5 linked regions of the Homo sapiens genome follow. The protein of the gene in region 5 purifies or fractionates together with the protein of the main gene of each other region. This does not show direct contact. Each region holds a gene or a part of one and is shown on either strand. Other genes may lie near its edges. The genes, in order: RHOBTB1, MEGF8, INPP5A, MAST3 and PSG3.

Region 1 (3,500 bases), on a different chromosome or scaffold from region 5:
GGGGGAGGTTTTGTCTCTCCTCCTTCTTTGAATTCTTGGACATGTATTTGGCCAAGAAGAGACAGTTTCTAGAATTCCATGAAGCCCCGTAGTGCCTCCCCTGTTAATGAACATCTCATTGCAGCTGTTCTGGAGTTTTCTAAAGTCAGAAGTTGCTAATATTGAGATTGTAATAACATAATCCCAATACAGACTTGCCCTCTTCTTCCAGAGAAGGTCCAAGATTCAGCTTTAGCTTCACCATGGAGTAACTTCCCCAAAGCACAAGCTAAACTCTGCCTCACTTTCCTCATCCACAGGAAATGGGATGACAGTTTGCATCCTACCAACCTTACAGATTATTCTGAGAATGAAGTGGGAGAGAATGTTCAAGAGCGAGCACTGAAGAGTGTAAGCCCTCTTACAATGCCAGGCACATCTGCAGAATTATCTAGTCCCTGGCACAGGCTGATTAACAATGAATTTACACTCTGAGGAAACTAAGAATAAATTCCTCAGTCTTTTCTTCGGCCTGTTGGGTTTGGCTTCCTGTGCTCCCTCTTTCTGTTAAGACAATGACTTACTAAGTCTTAGGTCAGTCCATTTAAATCAATATTTCTCAATCAAAGGAAAGGAGGTGGTTTCAGGGAGAGGAGGTGGCATCCAGCAGGTGCTGCTCAGGCCCTTCCTACTGTGGCCAGAGGAGATTGCTCTGGTGCAAAAGGGGGAAAAGGCGGAATTGAACTTTACAGCGACCTATTCATTATGACTTAGCATTCAACAAGTATTTGTTATTTTTCTCCCCAAATACCAGGCACCGCCCTAGGCAAAGGCCGTGTACATATAAATGGTAGATCCTCTGCCCCAGGGCAATCATAGGCAAGTAAGGGAAACAGACACAAACACAAATTATTAAAATCCAATTAGGGATTACAGTGAAACTGAGAATAGACATCTAATGCAGTCGAATCAGCAAGCCCCCATCAAAACTGGTTGTTCACACTTGGAATTTGGGGTCTTTTGAAACAGTTCCAGGGGATGGTTTATAACCTGTACTCTCTCCAGCAAGTATTCCTCCTAGAGAAAAATGTAATGATCCAGAATTTCATATTGGGACCATTCACTTGAGGGAATGATTTGCAGTTGTGTCTGTTTGTTGCACTGTGTTCCCACCTTACCCCCATACACACCCACTACAAGGAAATAATATGATTATTGCTAAGCCCTGACAAGCCTTGGCAGGAAGAGCTTAGGATGGATTCTCCCATGCTCATTCATTAGACCCTAACCTAGTGATGTGCTGGTAAGTGTTTAACAGTCAGCTTGAGGGCAAGTGGGACCCCAATCTGTTGCGTTTGCCAATTTCTATGATATAAATACTCCCATCATGGCTGATGATAACATATGAAGTCACTAAACTCAAAGTAGGGAAGAAATGCACACAATTGGTTCTCTCAAGCTGGAACAAACCCACCTGGCAGAACACTGCCCCAGCCTTGTTTTCAGAGAGAAATCTAACAGCAAGAGAAGTTGGAAGCACCAGCTAAAACTGTCTCTGATGTTTGGGTTGTGATTTTCAGTGAGTCTCTTGAGTGGGTTTCTGAGGTCTCTGGCTTTTCTATTGGCCTCACAGTGGAGATATGGGGCCACAGAGGAAGCATGCTGTAGGTTCTAGGGATCCACCTGACCAAAGAAACATCAAGAGCGACAGACAACAGAAGGGAAGTCAGAGAAGGGCACAGACAGAAAGTGAGGGATCGCAGCAGGCCCACCAGGTCTGGGGAGGGAATGGGGGAGTAGATAGTTGATTTTTGAGGATCTAGTCTTTTTTAATCATAGCCACCTCAGCTGCCACCTTCCTGAGCATTGCTTAGAATGGAAGGGTGGAGTATCTGGATCTCTCCACCCTGCCCATACCGCCTGCTCTTCTTATGTAACCAAAGGAGAGGTATAGGACAGTCACACATTCTGCAGTCTCCTCTTTCGGATCTTGGCCCCAGCAAGCTGAGCTCTGACATGCGACACGAAGTATTCCATTGCGGAGGCTTCCTTAAACAGAGATGACATCGCTGCTTTCTGCTGTGGGCTGGTGCCTTCCAGAGGCCACGGTTGTTTAGCACTAGAGGGCCAGGTGGCAGGGGAGGGCGGGAGGGCGAGGCATACTTTAAGCTCGTGATTCGATATTAATTATTTTTGTGCACCTATGACAGCAGGGAAAGGAGGGGTGTGCCCAGCACTACATTGGCTGGCATTGGAGCCATGGCCAAAGTCAAAACATTGAGGTCAAAACAAGAGGTTTACCGAATTAGTTATATAAGCCCTTCATTTCTTTTCACCCTTAAAATGGCTTCCCCAATTTCTTTGTAGCCCCTCTTTAGAAAATAGTCTTACCCTCCTTTTGCTCACTTTTCTGCAGTTTCACAATGCCCACCAGTTGGCCGCCTGGTGTTTGCACCACATCTGCACCAACTACAACAGTGTATGCTCCAAGTTCCGTAAGGAAATCAAATCAAAATCTGCAGGTGAGACTGTGTGAGGCCCCCATTCATCCAGCTCTCCTCACCTCTCATGGAAGCTTTTATCTTCTATGTCCCTGGAAAGGAACATGGTCAGCAGGCAGCTCATGGATGATTCCTCGAGACTGGCTGGTGGTCACATATTAATGTGAGATGACATAAGGAATTGAAGGCTGGGAATTGTCTTTGGAGAACTTGATGATGAGGGGAGTTGGGTGGGCTAGAGTCCAGGGTGCCCTGTTGCAGAGAGTGCAGAGGTGGTGGCCTTCCCCTTGTTTAGGGAGACAAGCTTAGGAGCAGGCTTAGACTCTGAAATCAGGTGGTCCTGGGTTCAGGTTCTCTGTGCCCAGCTGCATGACTACAGGTAAGAGATTCTTCCTCTCAGAACGTTAGTGTCACCTTTTGCAAATGGCCCTAATCACAGTCTCTGCCGCATCACGTTTTTGAGAGGATATTTGAGAAGCTTTAAGCTCAAGGCCTAGCACATAAAAGGCATCAATGAACCGCAGGTCTTATGGTCTGCATCTTTCCTTCACCAGACAACCAGGAATACTTCGAGCGGCACCGCTGGCCCCCTGTGTGGTACCTGAAGGAAGAAGATCACTACCAGCGTGTGAAAAGGGAACGAGAGAAGGAAGATATTGCACTAAATAAGCATCGCTCAAGACGAAAGTGGTGCTTCTGGAATTCATCTCCAGCAGTGGCCTGAAGAGGAAGAGAAAAAAAACAAAAAACAGAAACCAATCGGTAATCTGATCCACCACTTTTCAAAGCACTACTATAAAATTCGTCTTGTTAGAGATACGACATAGTTCAGGTTTCGGGCACTGATCTTCCTCCACTTTTGTGCATTTATCTTTGTTAGGATCAAAGCACAAGCTCACCATCAATGAGCCTGGACAAAAAGGGAAGCTGACTCTCACTGCATTCCTTAAACTGATATGTATATTTTTTTTGTTAGGAGGCTTAATAAACTTTAGTCTGTTATTTTGTTTCTTTTTATAC
Region 2 (4,285 bases), 380 kb from region 5:
CCAAGGCTGGACATGTAGCTCGTGCACTAAGTCAGAGTTTCTCCTCGAGAATGTGAGCTAACCGACAAACACAGAGATGAACGTGGTCTCTGGAATTAGAAGGCATCTAGACTGGGAGTCAAGGCTGCAATCTGAGGCCATGTGTGTTGACTATCAGACCGACAGAAACCCGACAATGGAGAAGTGTGGAGAACAGCTGAGATTACGGGTCATGTGGCCTGAGAGCAACAGAGCAGAAACACTTCCTGCTCTCAGAGTCCATCAAATACCCACACTTCCTTATAACAAAACCAGCTCGAGGGAGTGTCTGTTTCTTATAACCAAAAGTTCCATAAGTAGAGAGAGAAAGAGAGAGAGGAGGGAAGCAGAAAAGGTTTGGGAGGTTGAAGGAAGAAGCATTAAGAGTCGTGGATGTGAACCTATGAATTATATCGACAAAATTAAAAACAAAAAATTAAATTAAAATTTTTTTAAAGTCATGGAAAGGATGAGGAGACCATGATACCATGGACAAGAGTTGGAGAGGCAGAGGCCAGGGGTTGGGAAAGTGGCACACACAGAAGCATGGCTGGAGGACACAACAGGGACCCTCATGAGGCAACGAGGGAGGAAAGAGATGGTGGCACGAGAAGGAAGCACGACTGCAGCTAGAGCCAGGGAGATGGAAGGAGGAGGGTGGAGGAGATGGTGGAAGAAAGGTCCCTGCCAGCGCAGAGAGGAGGGAGACCTGCCCGGGCCCTTGCCTGGCACGGTCCTGGCCAGGTGCAGTACCTGCTGCAGGCTGCTGCTCCAAACACAGTGCTGCCAGCCCCCATCTGCTCCCTTAGAGTCCAGGCAGGAGGTACAGTTGGGTAGGAGGTGACAAGGGGTGGGGCAGGGCAGTGGGGGTGATGATTCCACCGGCATGGGGGACACATTCAGCAGAGAGTGGCTGAAGCACGTCCAGTCATAGGTGGGCTGCACGGAGAGGATGCGGCGGGTCTCCCCTGGGGGTGGGGCACGGGGATTAGAACCTCAGACCCAGGAGATCGCAAGCCCAGCCCCTCCTCCCTCAGACCCAGGAGCTCAGGCCCAGCCCCTCCTCCCTTAACCCAGGAATCCAGCCCCAGCCCCTCCTCCCTCAGACCCAAGAGATCAGGTGCCCAGCCCCTCCTCCCTCAGACCCAGGAGTCCAGGCCCCCAGCCCCTCCTCCCTCAGACCCAGGAGTCCAGGCCCCAGCCTCTCCTCCCTCAGACCCAGGAGTCCAGGCCCCAGTCCCTCCTCCCTCAGACCCAGGAGATCAGGGGCCCAGCCCCTTCTCCCTCAGACCCAGGAGTCCAGGCCCCCAGCCCCTCCTCCCTCAGACCCAGGAGACCAGGCCCCCAGCCCCTCCTCCCTCAGACCCAGGAGTCCAGGCCCCAAGACTCCCCTCTCAGGAACTAGGCCCACTGCTCACCTGTCCTCTTGAACTGCCGCGTCCACATGCACTTGCCCTCCCGCGTGCACTGCTCGCAGTCAGCAGCCCCGCACGCAGCCTCGGAGCAGTTCCCTGCCCAGAAGACCTCTCGCTGGTTGATCCGACAGTCATTCTCAGAGGTGCAGGACCCATTGCGTCCAATGCAAGCACCTTCGGGGCAGTTGGTACACCACTTACAGCGGGGGGTGGACGCCTGGTGAGGGAAGACAGGCTAGATGGGACCCTCAGCACCCCTCCTGAGCCAGCTGAGAACTCGGTGGTTCCTGAGACCCTGGGGTGGGTGGGACAGCTGACCAGAGTGGAGACCAGGACCTCCCTGCCCTACACCTGCTGCTTCTCATCCCTGCCTTCCCCACCACTCACCTCTCCATCTCCAGGTTGCAGGGTCCGAGGATGGCGGGCCAGGCACTCACTGCAGGTCCGGAGACGTCGACATTCCTCCGGGGAGCGAGGCATTGGGGAGCAGGGGGAGCCCCCGCAGCCCAGCCTAAAGGACATGAGGCCTGGCTCACTCACACCCATCCAGACCCCCTCCTTCTGCCTCCCAGACACTGTCCTGCAGGCCCCCAACCCTGCATCCCAAGCTGGACATAGCACAGGCCTCCTGAGCCTGGCTGTCCCCACCACCATTTGGTAATAGATGGTCCCACATCCACCTGTCACCCAGGCTGGAGACGCTGGACCACACCCCAGGTCCTCCTGCCCATGCAGCCACCGAAGCCTTCTGCCTCCTGGATTTCTCCCTGACCGTCCCCTCCTCCCCACCCCTGCAGCCCCTTGCCCAACCTGGTCCCCACCTGCAGGCTCTCGTCACTCTACCCCTCACAACAGCGCCAGGGATCTCACTGCCCAGGCCCGTCCCTGCCCTGTCCTGCTCAGGCCTTCCATGGCTCCCTGTCCTGCACAGGGGGGGTCCACAATCCCTTACCCCAAATCCCAAGAGGTACACACGTTTCAGACTGTTCTGGATTTTAGAAAAGCAGTGGGTGTACCCACTGTTACACAATACCTCCAGTGGGGTCTGGGGTAAGGAGCACTCCGAAATCAAACCATTAACATTCCTGTAGTAACTGACAACACACCCTTCGGGCAAATAAGGCCAACTAATAGCCTCATATCAGTGAGGGTGACTGGGCAGCGAAGTGAGTCTGTGCTAAGCCTAAGAAAACACTTTCAGTGTCCAGGATGTCTGCATTCCTGGAACCGCAGCTGAAGGATCTGTGGAGCTGGACAGAGCCAGTGCCTCTGCCAGGCATGGGAAGCCCTTTCTGAGCTGACCCCCTCCAGCTTCCGGTCTCAGCCTCACTTCTGAATCACTGATGGTCTCAACTCTACCGTTCTTTTAAGGCCCAGTTCAGACCCAGCTCCTCCAGCAAGCATTCTTGCATGAGACCCCAGTCCCAGGCAGGGATCCCCACTCAGAGCTCCCCCGGCCACCCTGCCTGCGGTGATTCACCCCTTTCCTGAACCAGACGGTATACTCCTGAGGCCTCCATCCTGGTGTGGCCTAGCACAGGACCCCCATTAGAGGGCTCCACTCCCCACTGCCTGTCATGGTCGCCATGGTTACCTGTGGGCCTGATCCCCGGACAAGCAGGCCCCATGGCACCAGGTGCAGGCCCCAGACTGGTTACAAGCTTCAGGTGAGGACAGCAGGCGGCAGGGGTCAGGGGGCAGGGTCAGTGCCAGCAGGCGGCCCAGGGCCACTCCCCCGAAACCCCCAGAGATATACAGGCGGCTCCCGACTGCTGCCACAGCATGGGCCACAGACTCCTCCATTGGGGGCCCCACAGAGGCCGAGCCTGAGGAAAGATGGTGTATTCAGACAGATAGAGAGCAGGAGACTCCAGGAAGAGACCCACACCATGATGCCAGTCAGAGAAGGATGCAGGGAAAGAGGAGAAACACAGGGTCAAAGGACAGCAGAAACAAGGCCAAGGGCGGTGGCTCACACCTGTGATCCCAACACTTTGGGAGGCTGAGGCAGGAAGACTGCTTGAGCCCAGGAGTTTAAGACCAGCCTGGGCAACGTAGAAAGACCCCGTCTCTACAAACAATAAAAAATTAGCTGGGCATGGTGGTGCGCACCTGTGGCCCCAGCTACTTGGGAAGCTAAATTAGGAGGATCACTTGAGCCCAGGAGGTTGAGGTTGCAGTGAGCTGAGATTGCACCACTGCACTCCAGCCTGGGCAACAGAACAAGACCATGTCTCCAAAAAAAAAAAAAAAAACAGCAGAAGCAGAGAGGAAACACATGAGGATAGACAGCAAGCAAAAAAAAAGAGAGGGAGAGAGACACAAGCAGACAACAAAGGAACACAAAGAGGGAAATAAGAAGAGAGACAAATGTTTTCGAACCAGATAGATGTGGCGGCTGGACAACTCTCTGAAGGCACTAAATGCCAATGCTTTTTTTTTTTTTTTTTGAGAAAGAGTCTTGCTCTGTCACCCAGGCTGCAGCCAATGTATTTTTAAGATGGTTAATTTTATGTTATGTGACTTTCACCTCAATTTTTTTAAATCCTCAAAAAATAACTGAGAGACACAGACATGAAGTAGTCTCTGTCTACTGAATCTGAAAAGACAGATTAAGAGAAAAAGGGAATTAAATCCCAGCACTTTGGGAGGCTGAGGCAGGTGGACTGCTTGGGCCCAGGAGTTCAAGACCAGCGTGGGCAACATAGCAAAACCCTGTCTCTACAAAAAAAAAAAAAAAAAAAAAATTATCCAGGCGTGGTGGCATGCCTGTAGTCCCAGCTTCTTGGGAGGCTGAGGAGGGAGGATTGCTTGCTTGAGCCTTGGAGGCAGAGGCTACAGTGAGCCAAGAT
Region 3 (4,285 bases), on a different chromosome or scaffold from region 5:
GGAGCCTGAAGGAGGTTTTGCTGAGGCTTTCGCCCTCATGTGGAAAAACGTTTTGGTGGAAACAGAACTACAGCATGACGGCTGCCCCTCCGCCAGCCCATGTGTGCCTCGCTCTCAGGTATCCCAGCCAGGCTCGGACAGACGGAGAGGCCTGCTCTGGCCAGGGCCCAGCACGCGGGTGCCTTCTGTCGGTGGCTGCGTCCACCACTGCTCTGGCTGGAGAGCCTCAGATGCCAAGGGTGCGGGTGGCGGGCACTGCCCCTCCGCCCACCTGCACATCGGCCAGCAGGAGGGGACTGTGGGGTCCTCCTGCGGTGCAGAGCCTCCCGTCTCCACCCAGCCCTGTCGGTTTCGCGTCTAAGTGAGCTCTGATATTAGGGGCGCACGTTCACGACCGCTATGTCCTCCCAAAAAGCTGACCCCTTATCATCGTGAAATGACCGCTCTCAGCCCCGACAACACGCTCGTTCTGAGGGCACCCTGACATGCAGACAGCCACTCCTACTTTCTTCTAACGACTGTTTTACAAGGTACATCCTCCTCCGTCCCTTCACTTTTAAAATACCTGTGTCTTTATATCTAAAGGAAGCTGGAAAGAGCTGAGCGATGGTCCCCATGAGGAAGAGGTAGCTGGCGACTGGCACAGATGAGGCTCCCATGGCAGGGCAGCACGCAGAGACGGGGAGCAGAGCCCCACTCTTCCGAGGATGATGGGTGGCAAGGAAGGGCCTTCATGTAACTTGCTTTCAGCAATCGGACCTTGGCCTGCGTTGGTATGTTTATTCGGCTTGAAGCTTGTTGCAGTATTTGGATCTTTCTGTAAGTTTCATGGACTGATGAAGAAATCTGAGCCATGACATCTGTAAGCATCACCCTGTCTGCCTCCTTTCCCCGCTCCTCCTGGGGCTGCAGCCACACGTGTTAGGACACCTGGTATTTCACAGTGATTTCTATCCACTTTTCAGTCCTTCTCTCTGTTTCACTTTAATTTTGTGGCTGTCTTCAAGTTCAGTCACCTTCTCTTTTCTTCTGCAATGTCTAATTTGCTGCTCCCCCAGTGGTGTTTTTCTTTTTCATCTGAATAAGCCCCTACTTGGGAAACACATTACGTTGGGTCATGGCAGAGGAGAGTGAGAGGGTCAAGGAAGCTGCCATTTTATGGAAAGGATGGCAGAGCTGAGAGAAAGAAGCTGGTAGGGAGGAGGGACCAAGGGGGAGAGGGAGGAGGGACCAAGGGGGAGAGGGAGGAAGGCTGACAGGAGGAGCTACATCCTGAGCACAGGGGTGAGGGCCTTGGCTCTGGTGTGAGTGGGGGCCCCGTGGTCCCCGTGTGCCCCACAGAGCGTGAGGAGAGGCCGCTTGTGTGTGGGCAGCTGCTTGACAGGGCGAGGGTCGGAGACCGAACGGGGGATTCCCGGGATTGTACAGACTCCACTACTGGTGGGGACCACGCATGACAGCTGTGTGACCATCTCAGGGACAAGGACATTGATCAACTGGCACTGGATGCCCAAACAAGTGAGATGGCCCTTGAACCCAAACAGCAATGAGAGTCCCACCTGCAGGGCAGGGGGGCACTGGAGAGCGAGACCCTCAGCACTGCAGCCTACGGGGGCCCACCTGGGAGAGGGCAGATTAACAAGGGCCTGTCACGTGACGGCGCAATGACGGCTAGTGGGCGCTGATGCTGGGGACAGAAGGCCAGAGATGGGGGAGAAGGATGCAGGGCCTCTCCAGAGACGGGGGAGATGGAACCAGGCCGGGGGACCCAGGGCCTCCCCAGAGATGGGGGAGATGGACCCAAGCCGGGGGACCCAGGGCCTCCCCAGAGACGGGGGAGATGGACCCAGGCCGGGGGACCCAGGGCCTCCCCAGAGACGGGGGAGATGGACCCAGGCCGGGGGACCCAGGGCCTCCCCAGAGACGGGGGAGATGGATCCAGGCCGGGGGACCCAGGGCCTCCCCAGAGACGGGGGAGATGGACCCAGGCCGGGGGACCCAGGGCCTCCCCAGAGACGGGGGAGATGGATCCAGGCCGGGGGACCCAGGGCATAAAGACGGGATTTAAGACGTGGGTCTCTGAACCAACAGCAAGTTATTCACGACCTGCAGAGTGTCCCCTCCTCTGAGGAGCTTCCTGCCCCTTCCCAGACACCTGGTGCCTGTATCTCTGTGGCTGCCACGTCCACCAGGGCCACCCTCTCATGTGTCCACCTGACAGAGGACCGCAGAGGAGGGACAGGTCTTTCCCAGCCCTGTGGAAGGCTCTGTCCCACTCCCCCTGTGCTCACCCTGAGGAACAGCCTCTCTCCGAGGCAGGACACCGCCCCAGCCCTGCACACTCAGGGATCAGGAAGGGACGGACCCAGCATGGGAGCAGGGCTGGCGACGGTGGCTCTTGAAGCAATACCGGCTGCTGTCCAACCTCTCATCTACACGCCTGGAGCCCCGGACTCCCTCTTATTTTCATGCACGCTGAGGCCCTGGGCCTCTCCCCACCTGTCACTCCCCAATTCCCTCTTGGGCTTGGTCTGGAGCCCCAAGACCCTGTGCGTGCTGGGCCACCTTCCCTGCCAGGCCAGCCATGGGCTCAGACCACGAGCAGACCACCAAGCAGGCTGCGGGAGTGCCAGGCAGGGCAGCGTGAGTGAGGCTTCAGGCAGGGAGCACCCCGACCTCTCTCCATTTACACAGGAGAAGGGCTGGCTTCTGCCAAGGCCAGCCTGTCTGACCCCTGCACCAGGCAGCGGGAGGGACTCACCGTGAAGTGCTCCTGGGATTTGTAGTTTTCATCCAGGTAGACTCGAGCCCTGTTATATTCTTTCATCGCATCACTCGACAATAGTTCTCTGGAAGGAAGAAAGTAGGTTCCTGAGGAAAAGCCACACAGACGCCTTGCACCTCATGAGATGACCACAAGGTATAAGAGGGGCTCCAGCACATAGGTACATCACCGTGAGACCATCCACCCGTGACAGGCAGAGGGCAGGGAATGGCGGCAGCCACCGCAGGAGCTGGCCTCACGTTCAGCTCTCAGCATGTGCAGAGCTCAAGCTCCCACAGGCTCTGGTCTCCACGCAGCCTGTGAGATGCCGGGGTCTGAGGCATCCCAGGGATGGAGACATTGAGAACTCACCCAAGGTCTCATGCCAGGGAAGCGCAACTCCAAGCTCTGGGGGCTCTCCTGATAGCTCACGCTTGGTCTTAAGAGAGAAATTGGACCCCCAGTAGCCACCAGCACACACAGGTTGGGGCACATGCACCCCAGGGCCCAGGTAGTTCTGTCCCCATCTGCTCCTCCCAGAAGTGGCAGCGAGAATGGTGGTTGAGTTGCCACGGCCTTGCAACCACACAGGAGGGAAAGGACCTCTGGACACGCCATTGTCCCCGACCGTTCATCCTACTGGTCACATTTTATCATCAGGAAGGCCTTAAGGAGACAAGCTCACCACCATCTCCGCAAAGCATGGCTGCACAGGAGGCCACCGCACACCCCTGGAGCCCATGAACGGAGGACGAGGCCCCGTCTGCCTGGCCCCTCCACAGAGACAGTCCATCATCCCCCTACCCACGCATGCTTATTCAAGCCAGTGGGGAGAGAGGAGACCAGCACCCTGTGATCCAGCCAGTCCATGTGTCAGGAAGAAGGGGGGTCCACATTGAAGAAAATAAAACTGCACCAGTAGAGAAGGGCAAGGCAAAGAATGCCTTGACAGACCCACACTGATCCCCATGTGGCTTAACTGTTGGTAAACACAACCTTCAACACGCTTTAAAGGAAGAAAACAGGGCTCAAACACTAAACAACGTAACATTCGCAATGTCTGCCATCCTACGGAAAATAACTTGATATGAGAAGCAGCAACACCACGTGAATGTGTCCCGTCATCCTACGAAGAAGCCGTCAACAGAAACAGACCCGGAAGAGGCAAAAATGACGGAGTGAGCTGAAAGCAACTGGGAACAGTCATTGCAACTGTGACCAGACAGCGAAAGGAACGCACAGACGGAAGGAAAAGCGAGGACAGGGAAAGCACACGTGAGGCTTCTGGAAGGAGTGGACAAACACAATGTCAGAAATAAAACGAACTGACTGCATGGACCTAAGAGAAGATCAAAATCTGCAACAGAAAAGAGCCCAGCCACTTAAAAATACAGCAACAGAGGCGATCCAAACCGAAACACAGGGAAAATGAGCTGAAAACAATCAGAAGAGCTTTAGGGCCCTGTGGGGCAGAACCAGGCAATCTAACATCAGGTAACTGGAGCCTAAGAACAAAAGAGA
Region 4 (4,285 bases), about 25 Mb from region 5:
GTTCTCTTCCTTGCTTTCCTGCACTAATATACAGCAGGTGCTCAAGACATGCACGGTCACTGTCTTTACATGTAAGGTCTCGCAAATTGCATAATCCTGTTCTGTGTGTGTAGTTGGTGTCTTATAAGTGCATGTTCTCTCCCCTTGTGCAGCAGCAGCTCTGGGTGCGCAGCCCCTTCTCCTGTATACAGTGTGTGCATCCTAAGTGCACATCCTCTCCCCTGGATTGGCAGCACCTCCATAAGTGCACCGGCCTTCCCCTGCATACAGCAGACGCCTATTAAGTGTCTGCTCTCCTCTCCTCTGTACACACAAGATGTTCACCATGCGCTCATTCCCTGCCTTCCTGTCAGGAGGTACCAACAGAGCTCAGACAGATGGGGCTCCTGAAGGGTCCCGGGATGCACCTCAGAGGCTCTGCCCTGATCCTCTTTGGCCCCGCCCCTGATCCTCTCTGGCCCCGCCCTCCGCGAGGCCCCGCTCATGCTAGCTCAGCTCACTTGTCTGGTTTGAGGTCACGGTGCACGATGCCATAGTTATGCAGGTACTCCAGCGCCAACACCGTCTCGGCGAAGTACAGGCGGGCCATGTCCACGGGCAGCGGGCCCATGTTCTTCAGGAGCGTGGCGCAGTCGCCGCCTGGGAGAAGGGCGGATGTAGTCATGAGGCCCGGGGCACCCCCGCCCCCCGCCCGCCCCTTAGGTTATGCCCAATGCCTATGCATCCTCCTCGCTTTACCTCCTGCAAAAGGTCCCCAGTTTGTTCTATCTCAGCGGGGAGGGTCGGGGGAGAGGGAAGGGGCGGACCCTACCTTCATTTATTTTTAATTTTTTAATTTTTTCTTCTTTTTGAGAGAGAGTCTCGCTCTGTCGCCAGGCTGGAGTGCAGTGGCGCGATCTCGGCTCACTGCAACCTCCGCCTCCCGGGTTCAAGCGAGTCTCCTGCCCCAGCCTCCAGAGTAGCTGGGATTACAGGCGCACACCACCACACCCAGCTAATTTTTGTATTCTTAGTAGAGATGGGGCTTCACTATGTTGGTCAGGATGGTCTCGATCTCTTGACCTCGTGATCCACCAGCCTTGGCCTCCCAAAGTGCTGAGATTACAGGCGTTGGCCACCGCGCCTGGCCTATTTTTTAAATTTTTATTTATTTTTTTGAGACAGAGTCTCACTCTGTTGCCCGCTCTGTTGCCCAGGCTAGAGTGCAGTGGCGCAGTCTCGGCTCACTGCAAGCTCCGCCTCTAGAGTTCAAGCGAATCTCCTGCTTCAGCCTCCCGAGTAGCTGGGACTATAGGCGTGAATGGGGGTTTCGCCATGTTGCTTAGGCTGGTCTCGAAGTCCTGACCTCAAGCGATCAGCCCACTTCGGCCTCCCAAAGTGCTGGGACTACAGGCGTGAGCCAGCGCGCCAAGCTGAGACCCTGCCTTCTGATTCTCCCCGACAGGGCAGCAATTAGTGCTGTATACAGCTGGTGTCTCCTAAGTGCATGTTCGCTCTCTCGCCTGGCAGTACTTTGGTAATAGTACTTTACCTGCCTGAACCATACATCTCCCTGCCTTCACTTCTGGTCTCCAGGCCTCTGCCCATCAGTTCCCCCCACCTAGGATGGCCACCCTCCTCTTGCCTCCAGGGTCCCATCCTCACACACTCCTGTCTGGGCTCCTCCAGCCCTAAACCCCCATGGCTGGGCTCCCTACCCCAGACTGGGGTTCCTGAGGGTTCCCCAAAGCAGGGTGAGACCTCATGGAGGACAGAACAGACCTCAACTTGGTCTAAAAATTTTCTCCCAGGCGTGGAGGGGTGAGCTCCCCATCGCTGGAGGCATGCAAGCCCCAGTGAGCGTACCTTCCACGTATTCCATGACCATACATAGGTGGCGCCGGGTCTCAAAGGAGCAGAACATGCTGACCACAAAGGGGTTCTCGGCAAAGGTGAGAATGTCACGCTCCACAAAGACCTGCTGGATCTGGTTACGCAGGATCAAGTTCTGTTTGTTGATCTTCTTGATGGCAAAGCGCTGCCGTGTGTCACGGTGCCGCACCAGGTAGACGGCCCTGGGGACAGAGGGCCAGGCTTGCTGGGACCGGAGATCGAGGCCCCAGCAGGCACTACAGCTCAACTTGAGCCCAGATCCCAACCTGCCTGGCCTTTGCCTGTGCTGTGCCCTCCACCTGGGCCACCCATTCTCCTTACCTGTTCCCCCTCCCAGAGCAGCCACCTTTGGGTTTAAGCCACCATGGCTGGGGGCCATATAAATGGGCTGCACATGGCCCTTGTATATTGGCCTCTAGGTTGTATGTTTCTTTTATTTTTATTTTATCTTATGTTTTTTGAGATAGCGCCTCACTCTGTTGCCCAGGCTGGAGCACAGTCATGAGATCACGGCTCACTATAGTCTTTACCACCCCCCCGGCTCAAATGATCCTCCCACAACAGAACCTGGCTAATGTTTAAATTTTTTGTAGAGATGGGGTCTCGCTATGTTGTGGAGGCTAGTCTCAAACTCCTGGCCTCAAGTGACCCTCCCACTTCGGGCTCCCAAAGTGCTGGGATTATAGGCGAGAGCCACTGCACCTGGCTGCTTGTGTATTTCTTTCTTTCTTTCTTTCCTTTTTTTTTTTTTTTGAGATGGTCTCACTGTGTCACCCAGGCTGGAGTGCAGTGGGGTGATCTCGGCTCACTGCAACCTCTGCCTCCTGGGTTCAGGTGATCCTCCAACTTCAGCCTCCCAAGTAGCTGGAATTACAGGCATGTGCCATTACGCCCAGTTAATTATTCTATTTTTAGTATTGATGGAGTTTTGCCATGTTGCCCAGGCTGGTCTCGAACTCCTGGCCTCAAGCGATCCTCCTACCTTGGCCTCCCAAAGTGCCTCCGCACCTGGTCTAGCTCTTTTAAAAGACCGCTAGCACCAAACTCAAAGTTTTACACATCCGTTTGTTTTACACACAGACCAAGTAAGCAAAATTTTAGCCACTGAGAGCCTGTCTGCTTTGCAGACTCGTGAAACTGCACCATCTCTGAGCCATGGATAAGATGAACTTTGTGGATTTCAAGACCCTAAGCTGCTACCACCCTGCAGGGAGTCTCTGACCCAGAGATTGAGTGCCCATGCTGTTGAACAACATCACCTAGACATGTAAGCCCCCTCTCTGATCCCCCTCTGCCCGGGGAGTTCCCTTGCCGGCCTCTCCCTCTTGATGGTGACTCCTGGAACCTCAGCCTCCAAAAGGCTTATGCTATGAGGGACTTCCCTTGTATGCAAGCCTGCCATTCAAAGCAGCACCTAAATAAAGCTCACTGCGTGCTACTCCCACTGGGTGGGCATCTATTTCCTTGATCAGCCCCCAAGCCCCTAGAACGCCCTACACCTGGGGCAGGTAAAGGCCTGGCTCGTGGACAGAGCACACATGAGGCTGTAACCTCGCTATGGCGTGTCTCCACTTCCCCCTCCAGTCCTCAGGTGCCTTCTCTGCCCATTCAAGGATGAATGTGTGAGCCCTGCTGGGGTAGGAGGGGGATGCAGGAGCTGCCTGGGCCTCAACCATCCCCTCAGGCATCTGTGAAATGGGTCTATGCAGGACTCAGGGACTCACCCATAGGCTCCGTTGCTAATGAGTTTGATGGTCTCAAAGTCGCTTTCGCATGGCTTCCTCCGTGACTGGCCGACCAGGGCGCGGCTCTAGGGGATGGGAAGGGCTTAGGGTCCTGCCCCGCTGCAGAGCTGGGAAGGCTTCTCCTGCCCCCAAGCCCAAACCACTGGTCCTGGTGCCCGATGCTACCTCCTCCCCTGTCCAAACTTCTCCAACTCAGCTTCTGACTTTCTGTACTTTTTTGCTCACAGCTGTGCCCTCCTCCTGGGAAATTCTTACACGTCCTGCAAAACTCACCTGTCCAGTGCCCCTCCAGCACTGCCCCCACCCGACTTCCAAGGCAGGGCAGTCCCACGTGCCGTCACCTTGCCTCCAAAGTCACCGATGCTAATTAAGCTACATGCAAGACCTCGGCAAACCCAGCCCTTTCTGCGGGTGCCTGGTCCACTCTGGAAAGAACAAGATGAGCGGGGGTCCCCCAGCCTCTGCTACTCACCTCTGGGGACTCAGGTGCTGGGGGCTGTTCTTCTTCGAGGTGACTCAGTGGCACCATCTCTGCAAGATGAGGGAGGAGGCTCAGCTGGAGCCTCCCTGCCTCACCCTGCATCACCCAGCAATTTCCTGAGGCCTCTAGAGTTCTCACCCCAGGCTGGGGATGCAGTGCCTCCCCTGACCAGCTCTCATGACACTGT
Region 5 (5,049 bases):
AACAGTGAACATAGAGCCACACAGACTGGGACTCACGGGGCTGGAAGGTGAAGGAGCTATAACATAACATATGTGTGACCTCGTGTGAAGTGTGCAGATCCATGTGGAATAAAACATGCAGCCTGGCCTGGGATTGCTGCCGTTCACATTTCCCTCCCTGTCCACCAGAGGGGGACAGAGTCCCTCCCAGCCTGGAGCCTTCCCAGGGGATGCCAACCGCCCTCAACGGAACCCACAGCCCAGCAGGGTCCACCCTCACCAGGGTCACTTCGGCCCAAGTCCTCAGCGCCCTCCATGCTCCCCACACGGACTCTGTCAGCTCCTCCCTGACCTGGGGGCCGCCAACCTAACACCACTCCCCCTGCAGGGAGCTCCTCCCCACACACCTGCTCCTTCCCTGGGCCCAGCTAAAGGCATCTCCCAGGGCAGTGCTGGTGCACGCGACACTACACTGGGTGCTTTCCCCTCGTGGCCTCCCTCCATCCTCATCAACTCGTTCTGTCACTGCTCCCTAAATGCCTGCCCCTGCTCCATCTGTCCTGTTCTCTGGGGCATCCCAGGCCAAGCCTAGCACTGACACAGAACAGTGGCTGCCTGAGGGCCCACAGCCTCCCCGGGAATCAGCCAGGCACCCTGTGTCCTGCCTGCTCCCTGCACCCCGGGGGGCTCAGAGCACGTGTGATGCTCACACACAGGCACCATCCGGGATGTGGCCACCTACCCCCAGCTGTCCCTTGGGAAGACAGACCTCTCCTGTGTGCTTGCTGGGAGAAGGGGGATGTTATTGCTCTTTGCTCCCAGAACACAACTCACCCCCACACGCCCACTCAGGTGTGAGCAACGTCCCTCCAGACAGGCTCTCTGGCCACTACCTGTTCCTCCTCTACACACAGCAGCTTGGCCAGGTCAAAAACCTCAGGACAGACCCCTGGGTATGTCGGCACATGGATGGCTGAGCCCATCATGGCCACAGAGTAAGTTGGGATGAATCTCTCCAGCTCTGAACCCCTGCTCTGTCCCAGGCTCCCCCTCCTGCATCTCAATGAGCCATGTCCCCCGGGGTTCCTGGGTAACTCCCCACTTCCTCCTGCACCACCACGGGGAAGGTGTGGTGACCACAGGACAATAAGCTGGGCAGAGAAGAGAGGACATCAAAGATGGTCAGGAAGAACATGAGAAACCATGAGCTCCAGCTCAGCCGCCAGACCCCAGGGAGCCATAGAGTGACCGAGAACTGTCCCTTTGACTATGGGACTCACAGCCCCCCACTGAGCAACCAGCACAGGCCTCTCCTCACAAGAGGCATGAGAGATTCATCCTGCACACCTCCAGGAAGGACAGTTTCCTCTGGGACACCCAGGTCCTGAATGTCCATCCTTGGAAGCTGCAGCCAAGCTAGACACGATTAGAAAAAGGAAGGTTCCCTCTCATCAGGCAACACACAGCTCACCCACAGCACAATGGGGTGTCACTGTGACAGGGACCTGGTTCAGCTCCAGCCTCCTGCACTGAAGGGGAGAGCCAGATGGGGATGAAAGAGGCCAAAGGGCATGAATGTGCACCCCGACCCAGAGCCATGGGGACAGCAGGAGGCTGAGGCCCAGGACTCTGCTTGCCCAACCTGCAGGGTATGTTTCTGACTGTGTGGGTCTGTGTGTGTCTCTTCTGTGTGTGTCTGTGTGTGTGTGTGTCTGCACAAAGTGTGTGATGAGGCTTGGTGAAAGAATCACTGCTGAAAAAGGCAGAGGCCTCCACAATTCCCAGGGACCTGAAACACAGACAAAAGGAAAAACAGGAGGGACAAGGAGGCAGGACTGAGAGAGGAGGGGACAGAGAGGTGTCCTGGGCCTGACCCCGCCCATGAACCTGAGAAGTGCTCCTGCCCCGGGAAGAGGCTCAGCGCAGAAGGAGGAAGGACAGCACAGCTGAGAGCCATGCTCAGGAAGTTTCTGGATCCTAGGCTCAGCTCCACAGAGGAGAACACGCAGGCAGCAGAGACCATGGGGCCCCTCTCAGCCCCTCCCTGCACACAGCGCATCACCTGGAAGGGGCTCCTGCTCACAGGTGAGGAGAGAACTTCCTGGGAGAGGACAGGAGGAGGAAGCAGAGTGACTGGATGGGGTCTCCTGGAGAGACTCCTGGGGTTCTAAAAAATAAAAGAAGCCAGCACTTAGGGAGGCTGAGGAGGGTGGATCACGAGATCAGGAGTTCAAGATCAGTCTGGCCAACACAGTGAAGCCCTGTCTCTACTAAAAATACAAAAATTTAACCAGATATTGTGGTGTGCTCCAGTAATCCTAGCTACCCGGGAGGCTGAGGCAGGAGAATCACGTGAACCCGGGAGGAAGAAATTGCAGTGAGCCGAGATAGTGCCACTGCACGCCAGCCTGGGCGACAGTACAAGACTCCGTCTCAAAAAAAAAAAAGAATGGAAAGAAAAAAGAAAAAAAGGAAAGAAGTCTCTGTTGGAGCCTGGATAGGGGAAAATACACCCAAGAGGGACAGGGGTCAAAACAGGAAAGTCACAGGAACCAGAATTGGTAAGAGGTAGGAAAATCTTAAGTGTTCTGTTTTCCTGATTAATCATCAGGGGCCACCACATTTTGAAAAATGATAATAATAACTATATCAGATGACACTTCAAATAAAAATATAAGCAGGGCATGAAACACTGTCCTCAGCAAAAAAACCTCAACAACTGGGGGAAGAAAAAACACCCAGGGCATGGAGGGCCCTGAGAACTCTCACATCTACAGGAGTCTGCAGCCTGTTCCAGGCACTGGGGTGCAAAGAAGATCACAAAAGTCCCTGTCCTCACGGAGCTCACGCTGTCATGGGGGGGAAGACAGACATGCAAAGAGTTCTAGAATGTGAGGTCAGGTGTTGAGAAGAACCCTGGAGGGAGCAGAGCAGGGAAAGGTCAGAAAGGGAAGACCCAGGGTCTCTGAAGGAGGCGTCAGGAAAGAAGTCTAAGGATGCCCTGATGTGAGCAGGACCTGAGGGCAGTGTGGAGGGGGCCGTGCGGACCCCTGGGGAAGAGGATTCCAAACAGAAAAATGCCAAGGTCAGAAGTGTTGAAGGAATGGGGGTCATGTTGCTGACCTTCACCTAGTAGGAGAGTAGGACACAAACACATATACACATGCCCCTTTTGTGTGTGTGTGTGTGTTTGTATGTGTGTGTGTGTGTCTCTTCAAAGCTGAGGATTGAAGAGACCTTCTCAGGACCCAGGGCCACATCTTTTCACCCCAATGCATAGGTCTCAATATTGACTGATGCTCTCTCCACCTCCTAGCATTACTTTTAAACTTCTGGAACTTGCCTACCACTGCCCAAGTCACGATTGAAGCCGAGCCAACCAAAGTTTCCAAGGGGAAGGACGTTCTTCTACTTGTCCACAATTTGCCCCAGAATCTTGCTGGCTACATCTGGTACAAAGGGCAAATGAAGGACCTCTACCATTACATTACATCATACGTAGTAGATGGTCAAATAATTATATATGGGCCTGCATACAGTGGACGAGAAACAGTATATTCCAATGCATCCCTGCTGATCCAGAATGTCACCCGGGAGGACGCAGGATCCTACACCTTACACATCGTAAAGCGAGGTGATGGGACTAGAGGAGAAACTGGACATTTCACCTTCACCTTATACCGTGAGTGACTCCACGTGATCACTGGGTGTTGGGGGATGGGGTCTTTACTTCACACACAAAGGATTGTCAGGCCTGGATTGTGCCTGTGTCCCTCTCTGCATTATGTCCCATGCTGGGGTTTGGGCATTTAGTGCAGGACACACACAGAAGAGACAAATTTCAACAGATCAGAATTCCTTTCCCGCATCCAGACCCTGCAGACACTCGCTGCAGAGGAAGGACAGTCTGATGGGGGGACTCAGCAGGAGGAGATCAGTCTCAGCCAAGCACCTCATGCTCTCTTCATAAATTTGACCCTGAGAAAGACCCTGGCAAACTGAGTAGGGCTTGGCCTCAGGGGCCCCATGAAATACTCTCAGAGAAGCTCAGCCCTAGAAGCCTCACCCCCAGAACCATGTCCCTAAATCCTTGCTCCAGATAAATCTGAGGAGCCTGTACTGGGGCTGGGTTGTCGCTTCTTGGGCAGGGCTTACTGGGACCAAGGATTTACCAGCTGTCAGAGGACTGTGTCTCCTGGAGCTGTTCACCAGCCAGGGCTCAGCCCTCAGAGCCTCATCTGGGCAAGGACAGAGCTTTCTTCACCTGACACTCAGAGTGGAGAGGACAGAAAGACAAGCTTTGTAGGCCATCAGACAACTGCCTTAGGAGGCTTAGGCCAGTCCATAGAAAGTCTAATGTCCCCAGAAGCAGAAACAGAGGAGAGAAGATATACCAGGTAGCAGCTTGTCCACAGGCATCTGACATAAAGGTGCTTTCTCATGGAAGCAAATTAATAATAAATGCTGTTTGTGTGAAACCTCCACTGTGCCAAGAATTAGGTCACGTGACTGTGAATCATTTAACATTTATTCACAGATAGCATGAAAAGCCACAGTCCATTTGCCATTTAGCTTATTTGTTTGAGAGAAAACTGAGGCACAGGAAGCCACAGTCACTGAACCAGAGTCACACAAACACAAAGGGGAGATCAGGGTCACATGAGGTGTGTCTGGAGCCAAAGGCCCACCCTCTCCTCCACCAGAAGTGAGGGCTTACTGGGTTCCAATCACCCTATAGTCATTTATTGGCTCAAATCCTCTCTTCTTAGGCATCCAAACCTCAGAGGAGTGAGAGCAAACGGTCAACTGATTAGTCTGTATTCCAGAACTAAATCACCTACCTCAACCGTCAGAGTCAGTGGAAAAAACATGTCCAGGCCTCCCCCTCAGATCTTAACCACCATCACTGAACCTGAAATCCTGTGTTTCCCAAAGTGTCCATGTCACTGTCACAAGAGGATCAAGGAGAGGACCTTGTTTTCTTTCCCCACTCACACCCTACACCACCATAGGCCCAGCGAGACAGACACACTCAGGAGCTCTTACATAACAAATGAAGAAATGGAATGA

Evidence for each region.
Region 1: the proteins of PSG3 (region 5) and RHOBTB1 purify together in Homo sapiens (co-immunoprecipitation; one large-scale study listed by IntAct). This does not show direct contact.
Region 2: the proteins of PSG3 (region 5) and MEGF8 purify together in Homo sapiens (affinity purification with mass spectrometry; 3 studies listed by BioGRID and IntAct, with this or other methods). This does not show direct contact.
Region 3: the proteins of PSG3 (region 5) and INPP5A purify together in Homo sapiens (affinity purification with mass spectrometry; one large-scale study listed by BioGRID and IntAct). This does not show direct contact.
Region 4: the proteins of PSG3 (region 5) and MAST3 purify together in Homo sapiens (affinity purification with mass spectrometry; one large-scale study listed by BioGRID and IntAct). This does not show direct contact.

What each region holds. Positions count from the first base shown.
Region 1 is NC_000010.11:60,871,186-60,874,685, reverse strand, and holds part of RHOBTB1 (rho-related BTB domain-containing protein 1), read left to right. Parts: intron 1-2,395; coding exon 2,396-2,501; intron 2,502-3,034; coding exon 3,035-3,204; 3' UTR 3,205-3,500.
Region 2 is NC_000019.10:42,359,749-42,364,033, reverse strand, and holds part of MEGF8 (multiple epidermal growth factor-like domains protein 8 isoform 1 precursor), read right to left. Parts: intron 3,260-4,285; coding exon 3,028-3,259; intron 1,945-3,027; coding exon 1,821-1,944; intron 1,651-1,820; coding exon 1,437-1,650; intron 987-1,436; coding exon 772-986; intron 1-771. UniProt on the Homo sapiens protein: Acts as a negative regulator of hedgehog signaling.
Region 3 is NC_000010.11:132,648,982-132,653,266, reverse strand, and holds part of INPP5A (inositol polyphosphate-5-phosphatase A), read right to left. Parts: intron 2,850-4,285; coding exon 2,762-2,849; intron 1-2,761. UniProt on the Homo sapiens protein: Phosphatase that specifically hydrolyzes the 5-phosphate of inositol 1,4,5-trisphosphate to inositol 1,4-bisphosphate, and inositol 1,3,4,5-tetrasphosphate to inositol 1,3,4-trisphosphate. Plays a crucial role in the survival of cerebellar Purkinje cells.
Region 4 is NC_000019.10:18,128,263-18,132,547, reverse strand, and holds part of MAST3 (microtubule-associated serine/threonine-protein kinase 3), read right to left. Parts: intron 4,149-4,285; coding exon 4,090-4,148; intron 3,683-4,089; coding exon 3,597-3,682; intron 2,055-3,596; coding exon 1,846-2,054; intron 640-1,845; coding exon 501-639; intron 1-500.
Region 5 is NC_000019.10:42,737,336-42,742,384, reverse strand, and holds the start of PSG3 (pregnancy-specific beta-1-glycoprotein 3 precursor), read left to right. Parts: upstream 1-1,903; 5' UTR 1,904-1,934; coding exon of another isoform or gene 1,935-2,000; coding exon 2,001-2,064; intron 2,065-3,295; coding exon 3,296-3,661; intron 3,662-5,049.